2 separate regions of the Homo sapiens genome follow, and region 1 is linked to region 2. Evidence: fine-mapped expression QTL. A gene starts in region 2. The other region holds a variant in brackets. All regions are shown on one strand. Distances are from middle to middle. Region 1 overlaps TMEM255A (transmembrane protein 255A). Region 2 holds the start of ZBTB33 (zinc finger and BTB domain containing 33).

Region 1 (5,381 bases), 23 kb before region 2:
TTTAGTAAAATTTTTTGGGAATAGTTTTCCCCTAACAAACTTTGGGAGAGATGGAAGGAAAGGTTATTCTAGCTATAGGTAGGATTAATGCTAGTCTTCCCCTCCCCAGGTATTTCATAGTGAAGTTTCTTCAGAAAGAGCATCTGGGCTCTTTTCTGTTTGCATTCGCAGAGCCAGCTCTAGGCTAAGTTGCTTGCCAGGTCTTGCCTTCAACTTGGACCTCAACCTCAGCCTCCCCACTTTCCATTCTTCCCTTCCAAATCTTTTCTATTTGTGTGTGTGTGTCTGCAAAGGCACAGCAGGACTCAGCATTCAGTAGGTACTCCATATAGTAGGCTTCTTTTTTTCCTTTCCTTCTAAGGCATTTCTAAGCATTTATTTGTTTATTTGATAAATCTAGATCTCTAATTATGGAGATAATAGCTTTGAGTTATGGTTATCAACCTGGCTTCATATAAGAATCACCTGCCCAGCATGGTGGCTCATGCTTGTAATCTCAGCCCTTTGGGAGGCCAAGACAGGAGGATTGACTAAGCCCAGGGGTTTGAGACTAGGCTGAGCAACAGCCCCTGTCTCTATTAAGAAAAAACAACTTTTTTTAATTAGCTGGGTGTAGTGGCACATATCTGTAGTCCCAGCTACTTGGGAGGCTGAAGTGGGAGGATCACTTGAGCCCAGGAGGTTGAGGTTGCAGTAAGCCATGATTGCACCACTGCACTCCAGCCTGGGTGACAGAGTAAGACCCTGTCTCTAAAAAAAAAAAAAAAAAAAAAAAAATGCTTGGGCTCCTTCTCTAAAGATTCTGATTTAATTGGTCTAAACTGAAGCCCAGGCATCAGGTTTTGTTTTTTGGTTTTTTGGTTTTTTTTTTTTAAGCTCCCAGGTAATTCTGATCTGCAGCCATGATTGAATACCACTGCTTTAAATGAACATCCCACATCTGTTTATGGAATTATTTTGTGCCTAAGAGGGACTTTCCTTTGACCCCAGAAATTAGCTCCTAGGCCCTTGGCTGTTTCTGTCAGATTTTGGGGTCCCTGAAGAACAGAACCTGAAAGGCAGTTTGTAATTTGATCCTGGACGGTCAAAAGGATGAATGTTGGAAAGTGAAAGGTGGGGTAGGACAAGGGAAAAGAAAGAAACTCTGTCGTTTTGGATTGCAAGTCTCCAGCAGTACTGGGCTGACTGGAACTATTAAGTGTTCCTGCTAGTGACTCTAAGTCAAGAGAAATCCTTTCCTGCCCATCTGCACTCTCTCTTTCTTCTTTCTCTCCCTCTCTCATCCGCACATTTCTCTTCCCAGCTTCCCTCCCCAGACTCTGGAATGCCCAAGCACTAACAAGTAGGGGAAGCATCAACAAAGGTGGAGCCCCAGGAGGGAAAAGGATTTCCTGTAAATTTGGCCTTGAGGAAGCTTTTAGGTTAGAGAGCTGCAAAAAAAGCTGTTTCTGGGTTGGGGCTTCTTTGGAGAAAAGAATGCCCTTTGTTCTTGGAGAATTTCCCCAGGGGGCAGATGAAAGTACAGGTATTGTGTGGAATCTCAGCAGCTTTGGCTGGAAGAGAAGCTCCCAGGTTTGGCGAGTTGAGGAGATGGGACCTCAGGATGAGTGTTAAGAGTTCTCTAAATTGTCCCTAGAGCTTTCAGGCTTGGATGGCAGAGATACCTTGATGCACAAATGGAGTAGGTGGTAGCTACTTGGTAGGCTCTGTGGGGTGCCTGTAAGGCTTCCCCCTCTCCAATTTTACCCTACTGTGGGCGCTGAAACTGCCACCATGTTTTATTCCTTACTTTAAGATAAGCATTGTCCTTTTTCTCCTTGTCCACTTTCAAGATGCGTGTATTAAACAAAGGAATAGGCTAGTAGGCCACAGAGGTGTTTATACTTTGAGTTACTAGTCTCTCAGTGTGAAGGATTTGATAAGACCCTTTTCCATGGTGATGGAAAGAATTGGATTTTGAAGGCAAAGGGCATCTGAGGAAGACAGGGAGAGTGGCTAGATGGACACTTTCAAGAAATTTCTGGAAGTTGGAAAGAAGGGAGGAATAGGAAGATGATATGCTAAGGAACACAACCCTGCCAAGCTTTTAGCCTTAGCTTTAGTCCCGTTTTCCCTCACTGTCCCCCTTTAAAAAAAATTGAGGTGGAAGTCACAAACATAAAATTGATCACTTCAAAGTGTACAATTCAGTGGCATTTAGTACACTCACAATGTTGTGCAATCATCATTTCTGTCTAGTTCTAGAACTTTTTCATTACCTGAAACCTGTACCCATTAAACAATCACTCCTTGTTGCCCCTTCCCTGAGGCCCCAGCAACCCCTAATCTGCTGTCTGTCCCTATGGATTTACCTATTACAGGTATTTTCTATAAATGGAATCATGCAATATTCGAACTTCTGGGTCTGGCTCCTTTCACTTATCATATTTTTTTTGTTTTTAAAATTCATCTACCTTGTAGCATATATCAGTGCTTCATTTCTTTTTATGGCTGAATAATATTCCATTGTATGGATAGACCACGTTTTGTTTAGTTTTTTATCCATTGATATACATTTGGGTTGTTTTCATGTTTTAGCTACTGAGAATAGTGCCTTCATGAACAATCACTTACAAGTACTTGTTTGATTACCTGCTTCCAATTCTTTTTCCACCTATGGGTGGAATTGCTGGGTCATTTGGTAATTCTATGTTTAACTTTTTGAGGAGCTGCCAAACTGTTTTCCACAGCAGCTGTGTCATTTTACGTTCCTACCTGCAGTGTGTGAGGGTTCCAATTTCTCCACATCCTCACCAACACTTTCTCAAAAAAAATTATAAACATTCTAGTGGGCACAAAGTGGTATCTTGTTGTGGTTTTGATTTGTACTTCCCTGCTGACCAGTGATGTTGGGCATCTTTTTATA[T/A]GTTTGTGTGCAATTTGTATGTATATCTTCTTTGGAGAAATATCTATCAAGTTTTTGCAGATTTTTTTATTTTCCAAACAATATTCAAGATTGTTAAACAAAATTTTAAAGTATTATAAAATGTTTAATTTTCATTAGCTTTAAGGTTTATGTTACCCCCAAATTTTGTATATAACTGAAGTTTCAAATCTACTAACACTCACTGAATTGATACCACTCTGGATTCTAAGGCATCAGTTTCTTCTTACCAATTTTTCTTTGCTTCTTCTAACATTTCTTGTGTTTCATCTTGAGAATGGCTAATGAAAACATCACCAATTTGATAAGGTATCATTAAGCAGTCATCATCTGCAAGCATGATGTCATTGCAAACAACTTCTAAATTGTGGAGTTGTTTCCTTTTAACTTCTGTTTCTTCCTTCAGCTCTGTGATTCTACTCATATTCCTTGCAAATTTGTTTACCTAATGTTGATCTTCAAAAGTAGCGTTGAAATTTTCTGCAGCCTGTAAACAACAGCACTAGTAGCACCTACCTGTGGACTTGTGAGGGCTGATGTGATAACCCAGGTAAAGTGCATGTATTAGTCCATTCTCACACTGCTATAAAGAACTGCCCGGCCGGGTGCAGTGGCTCACACCTGTAATCCCAGCCCTTTAGGAGGCCGAGGTGGGCAGATCACGAGGTCAGGAGTTTGAAACTAGCCTGGCCAACATGGTGAAACGCTGTCTCTACTAAAAATACAAAAATTAGCCGGGCATGGTGGTGCATGCCTGTAATCCCAGCTACTCGGGAGGCTGAGGCAGGAGAATCACTTGAACCTGGGAGGTGGAGGTTGCAGTGAGCCGAGATCGTGCCATTGCACTCCAGCCTGGGCAATAGAGTGAGACTGCGTCTCAAAAAAAAAAAAAAAAAAATAGCCCAAGACTGGGTAATTTATAAAGAAGAGAGGTTTAATTGACTCAGCTCTGCATGACTGAGAAGGCCTCAGGAAACTTACAATCATGGCAGAAGGAGAAGCAGGCACATCTTACATGGCAACAGGTGAGAGTGCATGTGAAGGAAGCAAAGGGGGAAGAGCCCCTTATAAAAGCATCAGATCTCGTGAGAACTCATTCACTATCATCAGAACAGCAGCATGGAGGAACCACCCCCACGATTCAATCACCTCCCACCAGGTCTCTCCCTCAACACCTGGGGATTACAGGGATTACAGTTCAAGAGGAGACTTGGGTGGGGACACAAATCCAAACCGTATCAGTGCATCAAGTGCGTAAAAGCCAACCTCAGTCAATGGGACCTTCAGTTTCCCATACCCTAAGGACAAGGCCTGGGCTGCAGGGTCCTCATGCTCCCCAGAGGCACCCTCAGTACTGAGAGAGGTGCCCAGAGCCCTCCATGGATTCCGGCCTGGGGACCCCCTGCCTCAACAAGCCAGGTGACTAAGCAAATGCTCAGGGCCCTAGGTGCAGACAGGGCTCCCCACAGAGCAGCTGTAAGGGCTGGGGGCCTCAGTCTTGGGCCCCACACTGAGCTTCAGAGCTGGGCACCCCCAGCATCCCACACCCTCCACTCCCCTGCTATAGCTGAGACCTGGCCACTGACCAAGAATCCTGCCCATTTTTAAATCTGTTTTGTTGTTGTTGAGTTGTAAGAGTTCTTTATAAATAGCGGATACTAGAGCATTATCAAATATGTGATTTGCAAGTACTTCCTCCCATGCTGTGAGTTGTCTTTTCACTTTCTTGATAATGGCCTTTGAAGCACAAAAGTTTTTAATTTTGATGAAGTGTCATTTATCTATCTTTTCTTTTGTTGCTTGTGCTTTTAGTGTTATATCTAAGAATCTATTGCCAAGCTCAAGGTCATGATTTCCACATTTTTGCCTAAGAATTTTATAGTTTTAGCTGTTACATTTAGGGCTTTGAAACATTTTGATTTAATTTTTATATCTAGTATAAGTTAGGGGCTCAGTTTCATTCTTTTTCATGTGGATATCCAGTTTTCCCAGCACATCTGTTGAAGACACTGCTCTTTCCCTACTTTATGATCCTAGCAACCTTGTCAAAAATCAATTAACTGCAGATATATAGATTTGTTTCTGCGTTCTTAATTTCACTGTTATCTTTGATCTCCTGAGGAAAAAATGGGTTTGCTGATGGTCTGTCTTGATAGCGGCAATAATGGCCCCTAACCCTCTGCAAAGTGCTTTTGCACAGTTAATCTTCACTATTACTACTTTGTGAGGTAGGTATTACTGTCTCTGTTTAACAGGTGAGGAAACAGGCCAAGAGGGGTCAAGTGACTTGCCCAGAGCTGAGTAGCAGAACTGGGACTGGAGCCCAGATTTGCCAAATGCCAGAGCCTTTGCTCTTTCTATTTCATCCCAGCTGCCCCTGACTAACATTTGGGTAGCCCTTTCTGGTTCTATGAGTGTTTTAACATATATTACCTCCTTTGTTTAGTTGATTTAATTA
Region 2 (5,381 bases):
AAGTGTCCAATTTCATGGCTTGCTCCTGAGTTGAGCAAGTTTTACATTGTTACAGAGATTTGAACAGTAATCTCCATAGTCACCTTTTTTTGAATATTAGATACATGCACCTCCACTAAGTGATTTTTAAAGATTAGAATTAATTTTCTTAGTCCCAATTTTGGGTTTTCTCTCCAAGAAGAGGTAAGAGTTGACTTTTAACTGTCAAAATTAAGGAAAATCATCATGAACACACAGAAGTTATTTCGCCTGTAAATGATTGAAATGTCAGAAAAGCTCAGCGCGTGCAATACTGTGTCTGAAATACATACTCTTAATTTTAACTAATCTTTAAGAATATATGCAGAATCTACACCCTGGAGCCAATGACATTTATAAACACTGACAATTATTACCTCCCAACGTCCCATTATTTTTCTGTTATTTAAATTGGGGTGCCTCATCTTGATAAACTATTAAACATCTTTCTTACCCTTTCCTCTTTCTTCATCCCCTTGTCCCTTCCCCTCATCTCTCCATCTTTACAATTTCCAGAGGTGGAATGTTAAACAGTGCCAAGTGAAGTCAACAGACACTATCATGAAAAAATATGACAAAGGAAAAGGAAAGTTTACCATTTCTAAATGCCCACTTCCAAGAAAACACGAAACATTTTATTTTTGTTGGTAAAGAATCATATGCATTGGTATGAGAATTTTTTCCACACCAAATGAGTTAGTGAAAATGAAAACATTAACTTATTGGAATAGACTACTCTAGAAAAAGGGGATGATGTCAGTAGAATGCATTGTTGTGTAGCACTAGCAAAACATCATTTTTTGCACTTTGCAGAAGATATTTCCAGTAACAAAGAGGCCAGAGTTTAAAAAAACCCATATATTAAAAATATATAATATCCATACATATTATATATGGATATATTTTAATATATGGATATTATATATTAACAATTAGTTGACAAGTACTTTTAGTGAAGAAATATTTTTATTAATATTCTCTCCCTTTGAAGTTACCAAAAGGGTGTCGATGTCACAATGCTTAAGTTATATACAGGTGGAGGGCAGTTCTGTCTCAAATACCTTCTAAATTTTTCAAAATGATACCTTAAGAACAAACAGCAGGCAAAAAGTCTAAAAATCAAGATTTAAAACATTATTAGAAGGTGTTGCATGTTAACAGTACCAAGGAATTCCAGGTTACCATAAAGGCATTCATCATCAGAAAGGGTGACCTTTGGACAGTTTGCCAAAAACCAGGGCTTCCGAAATACGGGCATTTCGACAGAAGTCGATATTAAGTGGAAAGACAGGTTTTCTGAAAACGGCACGCAATTTTTGTCATTTGCTCCCGGGTTCTTCCAATATGGGAATGCGTCAAATGTACGTGTCCAGGTGACACTGGGACTCGGTTTCGTTTCGTTTATGTGTCCCCCTCCTCCCACTCAGGGTGGCCCCAGAGACAGCACAAGTCGGTCTGAACCCACTCCGAAGATATGCGATTCGACTGTGGAAAAGCCATTCCACATCACTGTGAAACCCTTGACCGAGGGCCAGTTCGGAGGAGCTGGTGACGGTGGAAAGAGATAAAAGCCATCCGCGAGGGAGTGAAACAAACCGACACGCGGCTCCCTGCGGCAGCTGAACCTCATCTCCCTTCCTCCACCTCCCTCTTCCCCATATGGACCCTGCCAGCTGCAACCGAGGTTTTTAACCCCAATTCACGTGCAAAGCAAGCTTCTTGCAAATACAGACGGAGGTACAAACAGCAGAGTGAGGGCGGGAGGAATATGGGGTACCAGGGAAAGTAGAAGGTGGCGAACGGCAGGGTGGGGTGTTGGGGGGGGGATGAAGCGAAGCAGGCGGCATTGTTGTGCCCCGGGAAGGGGACGGAAGGGGAGGATGGGCCTGGCAGAAAAGCTCTAAATCAAAGTAGGGGCTAGGGGAGTAAAAGAGGCACAAAAAAGCAGCGAGAGGGGCGAGGGAAAAGCCAAGTGGGTCTCTGTGATGGATTCCCCAAGCCCCGGGGCCTACCCAGGGCACCGGCAGCCCCTCGGCCCCTAACGGCGAAGGGGACCGCGCCGCGGCCCTCGCGGCTCGTCCCCTCCTTCGCTCCCCGGCCCACACAAAGAAAGAGCCGGAGGAGCTGAGCCTCCGACTCTGCCGCTTCCTGGTTCAAGTGAGGCGAATGCAAACGCAGGCGCGGCCCAGGGACGGAGAAGGCAAGCGCGCTCCTTCGCCCCCTCCCTGATTGGGGCCGGGTCCTCACCTGCTTCCCGGCGCCGCCGCTTCTCCTCCTCCGGACGCGCGGAAGGCTGGGAGTCCCCCAACAAGAAGAAGCCGCACTCCCCAGCGATTCTGCCCCTTCTTTAAACGTCGCTCCAGTCTGGGTCGACGTCGACGCGGCCGCCGCCTCCTGCCGCCAACGCTGCTACAGCTGCCCCACGCCGCCGACAGAGGGCACAGCGCGGGGGCGAAGCGCTGAAGCCAAAGGCGCCCTCCTCTTCCGAGCGCAGGCCGGGGTGGTCCGGAAGGGCCCGAGCTTGAGGCGGCTCCACTTCGGCGCCGTGCTCTGCCTTCGGTTCTTTCCGCAAGGGGGCGGAGGAAGACTGGGAAGCTCTTGTGTGTTCGGCTCTTTCCGGAGGGCTAACGGGTGGGAAAAAAGGAAAGGGAAAGATCGGGTAAGACAGTCGCAAGCAATTGGATGGAAGGGAAGCGAGTCGTTTTCATCGAAATTCAATGTGAACTTCTAGGGCATACAAACTTTTAGAGACTATACAGGTTTCATTTATTTTGCAAGTTTGAATCTGCTCTATTAGACTGTTTGCTAGATGATAAACCATCTTGAAATATAATCAAAATACATACAATCAAATAGAAATTCACAACTTCTTATGGTAATTCAAGTTCTGGGATAACAAGAGAGCAACTACATTACAGTAACTACTTTTAAGAAAGAAATTTAGTGTTTGGACAACTATCTTCTTAATTGAATACTAAATGGTGCAGTACTATGTTAATTCCCTCATTCCAACTAGCATTTACTGACCCCCTGCTTGATCTGTAGCAAAAACCCTATGTTAGGCTCTCGGGAATACAAAAATGAATAACCCAAAGGTCTCTACCTCTTTAGGGAGCTCAGTAGGTAGGTACACAAACATGGACAAAAATATTTGTACAAGGTGTAGAAGCAGAGAGAAGAGAATAGCAAATTGAATGCTGTCATTTGACCTGTATCTTGAAAGATTAATAATATTAACACTTGCATTTTTAATTTTTTATTGTTACTATTTTAATTTTTTATTATTACTATTTCCATAACATTTCATCTTCAGAGGGCTTTAGTGTCTGACACATAGTATGTGTTCAGTGATTGTTTAATGACCGAAAAAATACATTGTGAGTTACATAATTTTTTAAAATCCTCTGGTAATACCCTTCCAACTGAGTACCATAATAAATGAAGCAACAGGATGGGTGTTTGGAGAGCAAAATGTTTCCCTTTTAGGCTGGTTATTGATCGTATTCAACTAAGGAACCAAATAGTAACTTTTTTTCTGCCATAATTAAGGCCATTCACTACCTTCATTATCTTTTTAAAAAGATATATATAGGATAATACTGCATTCATTTCCAAAATCTTAAATTTGTACCTATTAATACCTTGCAGTGGAATTCCTGTGCTTCTTTCCTAAAAAATCTTGCTGAAAATGTCCATCAGGATATTAGACTGAAAACAGATGTAACTATATCTAATTTTCTCTGACAGGAAATCAGACATGGATGTCATCATCTCATCTACCTATCCCTAATCTATTCTTCATCCTCCTCAATAAAGTAAAGCCACATGGTATAATAAAACATCAAAGTGGTATAATATAGCTGTATTTCACATGGAAATATGCAATTCCTTAAGCTCTTCTCCAAGATTTTGTATTGTGGGAAAACAAACTATGTGGGAATTATTGCATTATTGATTTTTGATTAGGACTTAGCATTATGAAAAGTTTCATTGTTTACTATAAAGATATTTCATGGCAAATAGAAGTATGCTGTTGTAAAATAAACTAAGGCAGATTAGTATTTTTCCTGGCAACTGAGTACTTAATAACCATTTTTCTGAGTTATCCTCCCCAAAACTTAGTAGTAAAAAAAAAAATCTTAGTAATTAGAACAAAGTATATCTTGAAAGTTTAGGATCTATTTATCTTTCAGTGGCTTAATTGATGAAAACTAAAATGAGACATATCTTTGAAATACAGATCACAGTGGCAATAGATGCCACTCTAGATATCATGTTTGTTGGTCAGCTCTCAGTAAACTGGAAGGCACAATGCAATTTATTTTGTACCAGCATTTACATCACTGAGGCTGGCAACAGAATTGCCATGCCATTGTCACTTTCCTGAAAGTATTTTAAAAGTTTGGAGTACCAACTAACATATGATGAAACCTGTTCATTCAAAGCACAGTAAACCTTCTCTTCCCTTCTTGCTGTATCTCTCACCCCCTAACCAAGCAAAAACTAAACAAGTTTAAAAGCTACCTATAATGAAAGGGGGTCCAATGGTCAGGAAAGGAATTTTATTTGTAGGAAAGCAGAACAGACCAAGAAGCCTGAGTGGCCTTAATAATTGTCTTTGGGACAGGATCACTGGAAAGTTTAATTAATTTTCTGTTTCTCAACTAGTCATTTCACTTTTACTTTTGTTTTTAATCTGGAGGGCTTAACCCTACTTCAAACAACCCAGTAGTTTGAACTCTATTTCAAACAACAACAACTCACTTTGGGAGGCCGAGGTGGGAGGATCACCTGAGGTCAGAGAACAACCTATATCAAATGGATTTGGAGGTATCAATTGTTTCACATTCTAGAAAGGTTTTATTGGCTGAAAATGGGATGAGTTAGGTTTTATAGCCGTATTGTCAGCGTTTGCTTGCCTTTTGACCTTGATTGTGAATTCCATGAGGGCGGTAACTGTCCTCTCCTGTGTTAAAATGCCAACAATCTTGTGGGTGCTTAATATATATTAATTGATGACAAAAGATAAAGTGACACTCGTTCAGTCTTAGAGCACTTCCTATATGTTATGCTTATGGTTACAGATTTGGTAAGGTCACTCCATGGGATCTGCAGAAACCCTAGTAAGGTAGAGTGGAAGAAACAAAGTCTTAAGCAGAAGATGTGAGTGGGTTGGAATTCTGATACTGCCACTTCCTAGCTCTTTGATCTTATGCCTGATTCTTCATCTGTAAAATAGGGATAATAATACCTTCCCACAGAGTCACTTTGAGGATTAAATGAATCAACTATGCATAGTGTCAAACTGCTCACGGTTTCCAGAATATGCCATGCAATTTACTGCCTTCAAGTCTGAGCCTGGA

The links. PIP is the estimated chance that this variant, and not a neighbour inherited with it, causes the effect.
Region 1: its variant is the best candidate, but not a certain one, in a credible set for the expression of ZBTB33 in blood mononuclear cells (TOPMed, PIP 0.68).

What each region holds. Positions count from the first base shown.
Region 1 is chrX:120,271,181-120,276,561 of GRCh38, reverse strand. The region is part of intron 7 of TMEM255A (transmembrane protein 255A); the gene reads left to right. It also overlaps the pseudogene PFDN4P3. Among named protein-coding and RNA genes, the nearest start is that of ZBTB33, 23 kb to the right of the region's middle. RefSeq lists an enhancer at 1,105-1,782. The variant T/A (reference allele first, on the strand shown) is at 2,906.
Region 2 is chrX:120,247,862-120,253,242 of GRCh38, reverse strand. It overlaps ZBTB33 (zinc finger and BTB domain containing 33), which reads right to left and starts at 2,431. Exons shown (of 3, transcript NM_001184742.2): 1 at 2,266-2,431; 2 at 473-574. It also overlaps a transcript of TMEM255A not described here. RefSeq lists an enhancer at 1,886-2,724.